2 separate regions of the Homo sapiens genome follow, and region 2 is linked to region 1. The links come from fine-mapping of genetic effects on gene expression. Tissue or cell type: fibroblasts. Region 1 holds a variant in brackets; the other region holds the start of a gene. All regions are shown on one strand. Distances are between the middles of the regions.

Evidence for each region. PIP is the estimated chance that this variant, and not a neighbour inherited with it, causes the effect.
Region 2: it holds the start of SCUBE3, and the variant in region 1 is the best candidate, but not a certain one, in a credible set for the expression of SCUBE3 in fibroblasts (GTEx, PIP 0.59).

Annotation. Positions count from the first base shown.
Region 1 is chr6:35,167,708-35,173,923 of GRCh38, reverse strand. No RefSeq gene overlaps it. Among named protein-coding and RNA genes, the nearest start is that of TCP11, 29 kb to the right of the region's middle. The variant T/G (reference allele first, on the strand shown) is at 2,784.
Region 2 is chr6:35,210,885-35,215,884 of GRCh38, reverse strand. It overlaps SCUBE3 (signal peptide, CUB domain and EGF like domain containing 3), which reads right to left and starts at 1,929. Exons shown (of 22, transcript NM_152753.4): 1 at 1,382-1,929. The coding sequence starts at 1,466. It overlaps LOC112267955 (a long non-coding RNA gene), which reads left to right and starts at 2,205. Exons shown (of 3, transcript XR_002956343.1): 1 at 2,205-3,256. RefSeq lists a silencer at 1,796-1,905.

The sequences.
Region 1 (6,216 bases):
GCGGAGAGCAGGAGGGAGAGAAGATGCATCACAGGGATGGGCTTCCTGTTGACAAATGCCGTCTTGTGGCACTGGGTGTGGTTATGGCTCAAAAGAGCATCTATCTAAAAATGGGCCCTGGCTGCTCAAAGGATTCAGAGCACGTGTGTCTTTGAGTCACTGCTATTTACTTCCCGCTGACAAAAACAACCTTTCTTCCTGGCTGGTTTCCTCTGTGTAGCCCCTAGGAGTCCCACTGCTGTGAACATCTAGAGTCTCTTCCCTCATGGACCTCTTCCCCAGATGAATAGCTCAGCTTTCCTGGCAAGACCTGCAGGGTGGTGGGGACTGTGGCACCATAGCTGTTTGTTTATTCGTTAGAGCTGAGGGACAGGGCTTTTGAGTTACTTTCTCACTTGCTGTGTGGCTTTGAACAAGCCACTTGACCACTCTGTGCTCCGGTTTCCCAGCTGGCAATTAGAGGATGGGTGACTCCATTCTCTGCAGCATTTATCCACCGACTGAGGTTTGTTTACGGGTGAGACAGTGGAGCAAGTAACCGAGATGGGGTGAACCTCCTTCCCAGGTCGGGTAGACATTTAACAATAGGTTAGATCCCCTGTGGCCATCCTGGCAGATAAAGAGGTGGTTGTGGGAAGAAAATGAGCTTTAGGGCTAGACATTCCTGAGGCAAAAACTTGTCTCACTGCATCTTACTAGCTGTGTGGCCTCGGGCAAATTGCTTCATCTCTCTGATTCTTTGTATAAGGGGAATAACAGTTACAGCTTTTTTGTGGGGTTGATAGAGAGGTTAAAGGAGGTAACATCTATAAAGTGCTAAGGACAGTTTCTGGAATGTTATAGATGCCCAATAACCACAGATATTGAGAAAGCCAAGCTGAATAGGGATCGTTTTACAAAATATGTTAAAATCCTCACTCCTCTGTGTTGGCGTTTCTCATGCAGAGATTTAACACAAGTAATTTACTGTTGCCAAATGAATACCCCCAAAATTTTACTGTTGTATTTTTCCTGAAAATTAAGGCCCCCTTATCTCTCACCCTCCTTTGTGGCCAGCCCAGATTTCACCTCCTTGGAAAACAGAACCAATCAGAAATGTGTTTCAAAAAGTCCCAAGTTATTGCAAGGAGAACATTTTGGAAGGTGAACTGCTGCAGGGCCAGGCTTTGAACCCTGCCTGTGGAGCACTGTCTCCCTGGGAGGCTTTGTGGGTTCTGGCCTCCCTGGTGGCTCTGGTGGGCCACCCACGGGGTGGGATTTCAGGACTGGCCAACCACAGTCCTCGCTGTCTTGCAGGCTAATTCTTGATAGTCCGTGAAGCTCCATTGACTTAAAGTTTTGATCCCTGCTGGAGAGAGATACCCCTGGGAAAATATATCATTTTAATCCTCTTCAATCATGTAACCATTAGTGTATGTAACTATGGCAGAAACTGCTGGTTATCCCCTGTACCATTTCTCTCCTTCATTTTGTAATAGAAGTCCTGGCTACCCAGCTACAGTAGGGTTCCTCAGCCTCGGCACTCTTCACATCTTGGGCTGGATGACTCTTTGTTGCCGGGGGCTGTCCTGCGCATGGCAGAAGGCTTAGCAGCATCCCTGCGCTCTACCTAGCACCAGCCACTCTCCCAGCTGTGACCAAGAAATGCCTCAGGCCGGGCGCTTGGCTCACTCCTGTAATCCCAGCATTTTGAGAGGCCAAGGCGGGTGGTTCACTTGAGCTCAGGAGTTTGAGACCAGCCTGGCCAACATGGTGAAACCCCATCTCTACTAAAAATACAAAAATTAGCTGGACGTGGTGGCGCATGCCTGTAGTCCCAGCTACTCAGGGGGCTGAGGCAGGAGAATCGCTTGGAACTGGGAGGCAGAGGTTGCAGTGAGTGGAGATCACGCCACTGCACTCTAGCCTGGGCAACAGAGTGAGACTGTGTCTCAAAAAAAAAAAAAAAAAAAAAAGGTCTCCTCAGTTGAGTGTCCCTGAGTTAGAGATACATTTCCCAACCTCCCTTGCAGCCAGATATAGTCATGTCACCAAGTTCTGGCCAATGGCATGTGACCTGGAACACTCAGGTGGATGTGTACAAATGCCAGGTCAGGCCTTTAATGGGAAGATTAAGCCCTCTACTTCCTGTCTCTTCTTCCCACTGGCTACAATGTGAAGGCAGTGGCAGGAGCTGGGGCAGCCATCTTAGGCCCTGAGATAGAAGCTGGGTGTTAAGGTGGCAGAGCAGCTACAGAGAAGGAGCGGTGGTGCCCAACTATGTGGAGCTACCATATCCAGCCTGTTGCTCATGCTCAAGCTGCTGTGTGAGAGAGTAATGACCTGCTGTCTCGTTGGAGCCAATGCTACTTTGGCCTTTGTCACAGCAGCCAAACCTATGTCCTAATTAACATAATGAGTTTTTCGCTTCCTTACCTGACTGTAGAGTTGACACAAGCAGCAGGGAGAACCAGAATGAATAAAGGAAGGAATGACTAACTAGCTTCTATGGAGCCCCTCTTAAGTTTTAGACACTCTGCTGGGGGCTTTCGTGAATTCTCCAAGTAACTCTCCAAGGGAGGGACCATTATCCCCGTGTTTCCAGAAGAGGAGGCCAACGCTCACAGAGGTTAAGTGCCTTGTCCACATCATACAGCCCCCAAGGGACAGAGCCAGGATTCAGCCCTAGGCTTGAAAGACCACCACCCTCCACCCGCCCCTACCATGTTGCTGCTTTGATTGAGAGACTGAACAAACATGAGCCTCCACTAAGGATGCTGCTGCCATCAGGATGAGCTGTCACA[T/G]GAAGCCTTGCTCCCATCTCCACCCACCACTGTCTCTCCCCTCTCACACCCCATGTTCCGCTTGCTCATCTCCTAGGGGCCCCGGCTTGTCTGTTCTTTGGTGCCTCTGCATCTTGGCTTAGGTGACCCTGTGGCCTGGGATGCCTTGAACATCCTTCCAAATCCCTACCCCCTATGCCTGCTGGCTCAGAGCCCTGCAGCAGGATTCTGCTCAGACATCCCCTGCTCCAGGAAGCCTTCCCTGACTATAACCTTCTCAGTCAGACCAGGTCCCTCTCCTCTTGCTTCCTCCACACACCTGTACCATCCTCTGGTGGCACCCACCACGTGGTCTGAGGTGTGATGTTTACTGCGAGAGAGTTCCTTGAGGGAGGGATTCTGTCTTCTCTGTACCTTTGCTGATCAGCATGAGGTCTGAAACGTGTTGCTCACTCAAGGATGGAGGGGTGGAGGGAGAGATGCTAGGATACAGCAAAGCGAGGGACCAGCTCAGAACTGATCCATCCATTTATGCATACATAATGAAAAGTCAGCTGACCATTGCCGTGAAGAGTTTTGCAGAGAGAAAATGTCCTTGAATTTTGTCCTCAAAAAGCTAAGATACTAGAATGAGGCTAAGAAGAATTCAAATACAGAACACACAAAAAGATGAACTGTGAAGGTTCTGTTTCTGTCTATGGAAAGGGTCCCCTGGGGCCCCCAGCAGGCCCTGGCTCTCTTCACCCCGTCAATTCCTAGGAAGGCCAACTCATTCTAACATCAGCCTGAGTCAGACATAGTTAGGAAGAACCATCTGCTGCCAGAGAGCAGCACACAGAGATTCCCAGGCTGAAGAGAAAGATCAGGTCCCCCCTGCCTTCCTGCCCCCACTCACTCCCCAAGTGGTGAGGGATTGGCTGCATGTCTTGTTCTGGGGGACCTGCTGGCATTCAGGAGTAGGGAAAGCCCTTCTGCAGCCCTCTACTCTTGAGAAGCCTCCCTGGAGAACAAGGATGGGGGAACATGTAAGACAGGATGGCTTCCCTTTCTCAGGGGCTCTGGAAGCTCAGAGGGGTATCTAGAGAGCCAGAACACAGTCTGGGCACCTCAGAATGTCAGCCTCACCTCCCCTACTATGGGGGCCACCATGGATCCAGAGTTTCCATAGGGTACTCTTAAGGTCCTCTGATCAGTGGATTAGAAGTCTGGGCAAGAAGTTCAGCAATGAGGCCACCTTTAGCTAGAGCAGCTTTCCTTTCTCCCAGGGGAAGGGAGGGAGGGTAGGCCTTGCTGGCTGGATCAGTCCTGAGGGTGGGTAAGAACAACAGCTGTCCTGGTGATGGTGATGGTAATGGTGGTGATAGTGGTGGTGGTTGTGATGTGTTGGTGATGGTGGTGGTGGTGATGGTGATGGTAATGGTGGTGGTAGTGGTGATGGTTGTGATGGTGGTGATGGTGGCTGTGATGGTGGTGGTGGTGGTCGTGATGGTGGTGGTGGTGGTCGTGATGTGTTGATGATGGTGGTGGTGGTGATGATGGTGGTGGTGGTGATGGTGATGATGCTGGTAATGATAGTGGTAGTAGTGATGGTGGTTGTGATGGTGATGGTGGTGGTGGTGGTGATGATGGGGTGGTTGTGGTGGTGGTGTTGGTAATGATAGTGGTGATAGTGATGGTGGTGATGATGGTGATGACAGAAGCCAGCCCTACTGAGCCACAATTCTAAGCACTTATTTAATCCTCACAACAACCTTACAAAGTTGATTCTGTTACTTCCCATATATTACCCAAGTGATTTTAAAGCCATTTTCCAGGGCAAAACACTCCCATGGAAGCATCCCACCTGCTCTTTGGGACCTTGAGCAGGTCAATTCACCTTTCTGGTAGACTCCCCATCAGCAAGACACCAGCCCGGCTTGTTGAGTTCCTCCTGGTGTTATGGGACTCAATTGAGACCAACAATGCAAATGTGCTTTGAAAAAGTTGTGAGGACTCATCAGACTTATGCTCTTATCCTCCCCTCCTCAGCCAGTCTGGCCTGTGTGTGGACACCAAGGCCCACCAGGCATCCTCCAGGGAGGGAACCTGACCCTTCCATGTTTGCATTGTCCTTTCTATCTTTTTCCTCCCTGCCCATCTGCCATTCTGTATAGCACAGGGAGGGTCTAGCCAGTGTGGACAAGTGTCCCAACACTGGTTCTGCACCTCACCAGCTATGTGACCTCAGGAAAGTTACTTCCCCTCCCTGGGCCTCAGTTTCCTCATCTGTGTATAAGGGGGTTATACTGAGCTATCCCTCCGAGCACCAAAATCCTAATGTCCTGTGATCAAAAGCCAGTGGAAGGCCTGGGGAATCCAGACTGGAAAGCTCAGCTGAGCCCGGCTCCGCTTCCCATGTTAATGGCTTTGCCTAAAGGAGGCCCTGGCCATGCAAGCTGTTTTATCGAAATGTGTTCCAGCTCACTTAGATTACACTTCACTCCACTGAACTTCAAAAGGAGCACAAGAGCTCCTCTGCAGACAATTGCTTGTGGAACGTCAACACAGCCAGGCAGGCTCTAAGGGGTCACCTCATTGGGCAGCTGGGCAGGCTTTTAAGGACCCACAAGGGGGGAAAGCAGAAAGATGCAGGCAAGAGCCTCACACGGCTGAGCCTTCGTGGTTTTCACATGGTTATCGTCTTCCCCTGGTCTCCAGATCTCCGATCCAGAAGAGAGTCTTGATGGGCCAGAAAGATAGGCAGCCTCTAAAAGGATGAAAAGAGTCCAAGGACTGCAAGCTCGAGGGAGAGAATGAAGCAAAACAAAACTGTGAGAGGACATGTTAGGGGTGAAATGTGTTAGCACTTGTGTGTATGAAAAAGGGACACAAGTTTTAGTTCATGATAAAAGTTGGTCATGTGATATGGCTTCCAGAGAAACAAAAACTTTGGTGCTGCATTTAGAGAAATACAGTATGAAGTTGAGGAAAAGTGAGAATATTGGCCTGGCGTGATGGCTCACACCTGTAATCCCAGCACTTTAGAGGCCAAGAAGGGAGGATCACTTGAGCCCAGGAGTTTGAGATCAGCCTGGGCAATACAGGGAGACCCATCTCTACAAAAAATAAACAATATTAGCCAGGCATGGTGGCATATGCCTGTGGTCCCAGCTACTCAGGAAGCTGAGGTGGGAGCCTCTGCTTTGTTGAACCTGGGAAGGCGAGGCTGCAGTGAGCCATGATCGCACCACTGCACTCCAGCCTGGGTGACAGAGGCTGTCTATATAAAAAAAAAAGTAAGAATATTAATTGTTCCCCTTTATAAGAGCTTACTGTGCCAGATCCTGGAGCTAGCCAGTAATGTAGATAATCTCAGCATTTTGTGATCCTCACAAAACCCAATGAAGTAAACACTAAGCATGATCTCCTCATATTTCTGATGAGTAAACTGAAGTTCAGAGAGGTTAAGCCACTG
Region 2 (5,000 bases), 43 kb before region 1:
CGCTGTCTGGAACCAGGACTGGAAAAGAGGCAGTGTGGGGCTGGAAGGTGTGGGGGCAGGGTCCAGTATTTGACAGCTGAGGATCTCTAGTGTTTCAGTTCTGTGAAAGGACAGGTTGGAGGGGGAAGAGGTTAGCTGAAGAGGCAGTGTTTGGGGAGAGGAGGGCGGCATTGATACAGCACCTTCCTCTTCACAGAGCAGGAGCCCATCCAATACAACAGAGCAGCTTAAGAGCCAAACGCTCAGGCTCTGGGACACAGCGACCTGTGTCGGACACTCAGGCTTCCCCAACTCCCAAGTTCAACTTTCCTTCTGGCCCAGCCATCTCCTCACCCAGCTGGCTTCAGGAGCCCCTGGGACAATAGGCAGAATCATACTCTCCTGGGCAAAACCTTGCCAGGAGGAATTTTCTTTTTGTCCATATAAATCTCTTGTCGGTGAGGACACGATGGGGGAGGGGTACAGCAAGAGGTCAAGGGGGAGGAGAAACTGTCCCGAGAGAACTGTAGTACATCAGCCTAGTCTCTGCCTGCACAGCCTTGGGACCTGCCAGGCGATGAGCTGGGGGTCAGGGACGGGGGCGGGAGGCCTCCCTGTCTCTCTTTAATTCCTAGAGGGATCTGTCAGAGCTCCCCGGCCTGGAATTCTACTTTGTTATTTTAATGCAATTCTGACCTGGATTTAAATGGAATTGGAAACCCGAGGCCTTAATAAATAAATATTATGATAAGAAATGAAAGCCATGCAAGACGAAAGAGATTTCACCCCAAAGAGGCAGAAACGCAACATTCCTGTCGGGAGCCAGTCACAGAAATTTTCTTCTCTTCTTCAGCCCCCTACCATCCGGTGAGAGATGAGTTGATTTTTCCATAAAAGATCCTATTTTTCTTCAACATTTTTCCACTGATAAGGCATCAACTTAGAAATGTCTAACTTTGCATGCGGGTTGGGGGTAAGGGAAAGAAATATACGGCACGGCTGAAAAGTTTTCATTATTCCCTCAGTCTCTCCAGGCCACAGCGTAAGTTTCTGGCAATGTTTGAGAGAAGAGAAAATTCTCTCTCAGATTTTGGAAGACAAGAAGTCTTTCGAAGATGCTGGGAGTGGATGAAGTCGAGCGGAATTCTGAGGCGCGTGGTCTCTTCTGCCCACCGCCCCCAAGAGTTTCTCACTCCTCTCTGCCGCCCCCAGCTTGTCCGGCTTTTCGCTCGGGGCGCAGCGCCCAGCGGTCGGGCCCCTGGCCGGGGAGTCCGGGTGCACAGAGCCGGGTTCTGACAGCAGCACGCTCCCCAGCACCTGCCCTGCCCCTCGGGAATCGCTCCTAGGCCCTGAGGCCCAGCAGCCAGGACAGCCCCCAGGCCGCGCGCCCCTCCTTCCTTACCTTGCGCGGCTTTGCTGTACTGGGCGGCGCGGGCGTGGACCAGCAGGACAAGCAGGCAGAGCCCGGGTACGCGCCCCGAGCCCATGGCTGGAGCTACTGGCGGCCCAGCCGCCGGGGCCGGTCTCGCGGCCAGGGGAGGGCGGAAGCCGGCCGGATCCCAGCTCGCAGGAGGGGGAGGGGAGGGGGCGCCCCGCCGGGGCCAGGCCGGGGGCTGCAGTCGCGGGGCGCGGACCGCGGCGCCCTCGGCGCGAGGCTCCCGATGCTACCGGCTCCTCCTGGCCGGACGTCGGGGAGAGCGAGGCGGAGAGTGCGACGAGGCGAGGGGCGCCAGGGGCGACTGACGGAGGGGAACCCCCGCCCTCTCCAAGCCGGCCTCTGCCAGCGGCGGCGGCGGGGCTGCTCCGTGTAATCCCACCCAATTCCCAGCTTCGCCGGGAGAGAGCTGCAGCCGGAGAGCGCGCAGAGCCCGAGCGAAGGACCTGAGAAAGGGGAGGGGAAACGCAGCGCCAGAAACACGCCCTTTCTGCCTCTCTTTCTTCCTCTCTCGCTCTTTCTCCGTCTCTCAGGCTCTTTTTCTTCGCCTTTCTCCTCCTCCTCCTCTTTCTCCTCCTCTCCTCGCTCCTTTTCGTTTTCTTCCTCCTCCCCCTCCTCCTCCTCCTCCTCCTCCTCCTTCTCCACCACCTCCTTTTTCGTGCCCTTTTTTCTTTCAAATGGGGCCTCGGCGCGGTGGCCGCTCCCCCTGCGCGCCCGGGCGCGGTGGCCCCCTCCCCAGGCTGCCGGGCCGCTGCCTGCAGGAATTTACAATCCGGCGATGGGGGAGCGGGCCTGGTCTCCATGGAGACGGCTTCCCCGGGAGCAGGGAGGTCAGGCGCAGACCGCGCGCAATCAATGGATCAATGCAAGCTCCGCTCGGCTCCAGACCAAACAGCACCGGGCTCCGACTCGTCCTCGCTCCCCTAGGAAAGAGTCGGGGAGCGAGGGTGCGTCCCCGCGCTCGCTCGCGAGGACGGCCGTGCGGCGCCAGGTTTGAACGCACACCTCCACCCGAGACAAAGAGGGTGCGAGGTGTTGGGGAGGCTGGGGCAGACGTGGACACACGGACACACGGGCACTCGGGCGTGTCCACCGACACAGCCTGACAGGGGACATAGGACCTCGGAACACACCGCCTCCGACACCAGGCCGAGTAACAACCTCTCAACTTTTACACCTACCACACCCCCAACCTCAAGACTCAGTCCCCATTCCTAGATGCGAGTCCACTTTGAGGACCAAAAAGAAAGTAGCCTCCGCCTGCTAAAACTGCCAGCTCCAGGGCAGACTCCCTTGCAGTTAAGGCCTTGGAGGTAAGCCTAATGAACCACCCTACCCGCAGAGACATGGACTCACATACAGACACTCTCATGTGGTCAGCACAGGGGCGAAAGCTACCCCACAGAATCATGTCTATGTGTATAAACACAGAGACATAGAGACAGGTACAAGAGGCTCCTCCAAACCTGCACCCCGCTTCAAGAGGTGGTCCTGACTGGTCCATTCTGAACCCTTCATCCTTCCAACTGAGGGGAAGCAGAGGAAAGAGAAAGGATATTTTTAAAACAGGGGCAAACCGCAGAAGGAGCAGGGTCTTCCAACCATGGATGCTGCCTCTTGACTGTTCACCCACTCTGTATCTTCTTTCCTTCCATTGTAAGGGAAAGAGGAAAGACCTCTTGAAAGGCTATGAAGACTTTCTTGGAGTGTGAGGCTGTGTTCAGAATGAGACCAGGCCAGGTCCAGTTTTCTACAGGGAAGATGCTGCTAGGACCCAGACTAGCCTCACAGAGCCCTCAGCGTACCCAGGAGGAAGAGGCAATGACCAAGATCTCCTCAAAGGTGATTCAGTTCTGAGACCTTCCATATTGGCTGCCCACATCAGCTGGGGCAAGGGGAGGACTTTGTTGGCAATGGTGCTGTCCACCAGGGAGAAGAGCTGAGCCCTTCCTTTCCTAGGGATTCAGTGGAAAAGTAGGATGGAAACAGACTCAAACTTCTTATCCTGGGATGAAGATTACTTTTGAACAAGTCATATGTCAATGGGCCTCAGTTTCCTCAGAAAACAAGAGGGTAGTGGATTCACTCAGTGGTGGAAAGGGGGCAGTGCCCCAAGGAAGCCTGGGGGAGGAGTCCTGGAGAACCTTGCATAGCATCAAAGATGACCTTTGGGATGGGAGCACATAGATCATGGGAATGGTGTGGAGGCCACAGCAAGGCTGGGTCAGATGATTGAGGTCCCTCCCATCCTTGTCACTCTAAGATGCCCTCCCTCCTTCATTCCACTGGCAAAACCCTCCCCTTGCAGCGGTTTTGCCTGCTGCCACCAATTATGTGTAGGGTTGGAGGACAAGTGTAAATTTGCCATCTTTTTTGCCCCCAACAAGAGAATGGTTTCAAAAAAGGAGAAAGAAGTGGAGGTTGCCGGACGGTGTCTGTGATCTCCATGGGGGCACAGAGAGAGAGAGCCGAGGAGCTCCCCCACGGCTGGGAGGGGAGATGGCACGCTGCCTTGCTTTGCTCTGCCTCTGCCTTCTTTGGACACTAGTGTAGCTCCTCCGGGTCCCTGGGGGGTTGGAGGGAGGGCCCCTACATCCTCCTTGAGGTGGGCAAGGAGGATTCTATAGGGGGATTATGGGTTATTTGGGGCCTTCAGTTCAGGGTGATTTCCCGGCCCTCTGAGTACGGATATTGCCCTGGCTTTCAGGGAGGGAGGTTTGGTGGGTTCTTCCACCTAAGCCACTATGTCTCTGGAAGATTGATTTTTATGCCCCGTAGTTGCCTTTTATCTCATCCTACCAGTTTTCCTCTGATGATTTCCTCTTTTCCTCTTGGACCAGATGAGCTACTCCTCCACATCTGGGCAAAAAGAGGCAGTTCCCTGCTCTTCTCTCCTGCTGCCACTCACCCAATCTGATTCCAGAGTACCCTCAGCCCTTCAGACTATTCTACAGGAGTAGAAGCAGGGCTTATATCACCAGGACACTGTGAATTGAGGTGCTGGTCCAATTCATATTGCCTTTTGCCCTGTCCTCTTCTGCAGGGACTCAGTTGGACAGTAACTCAGGAAGATGACAGGGAAGGAACAACAAGATGGCACTTGCAAGTGGTACTACAAAAGCAGCAGCAGCACGTGCCATATCATAACCAGCAGGGGCAAAATGTCCAGTGGGCTCTGGGCCTCCTACACGCACCTCTAAGGTTGCAGTTTGCTTTGGGGCTTCATTTTCCTTCAGGGATGCTTCTGACATTTGTTTCATTCTACTTGCTCCTGAAAATGTCTGAGGAGAAGACTGGCAGGGGTCAGGGATCCCCTAGCTGATAGATCTTGGTTCAGTCCTGTTTAGGGATCCTTCTGCCAGGGCCCACCAGGCTCAGGGGTTTCCCCTCCCCTGCAAAGTCTCCTTCCATGAGCGTTGCTTTTTCTTTCTGCTCCTCAGTTTCCCTATATATAAAATGAGTCCAATGACCCTACCTCGATGGGCAGTGCCATATAGTCTAATGGAGAGCACATACAAGCTGGAAGTAGATTGCCCTGAGATCATTGTTAGGCCCTACCATTTCCCAGCCATCTATTTTTCTTGGT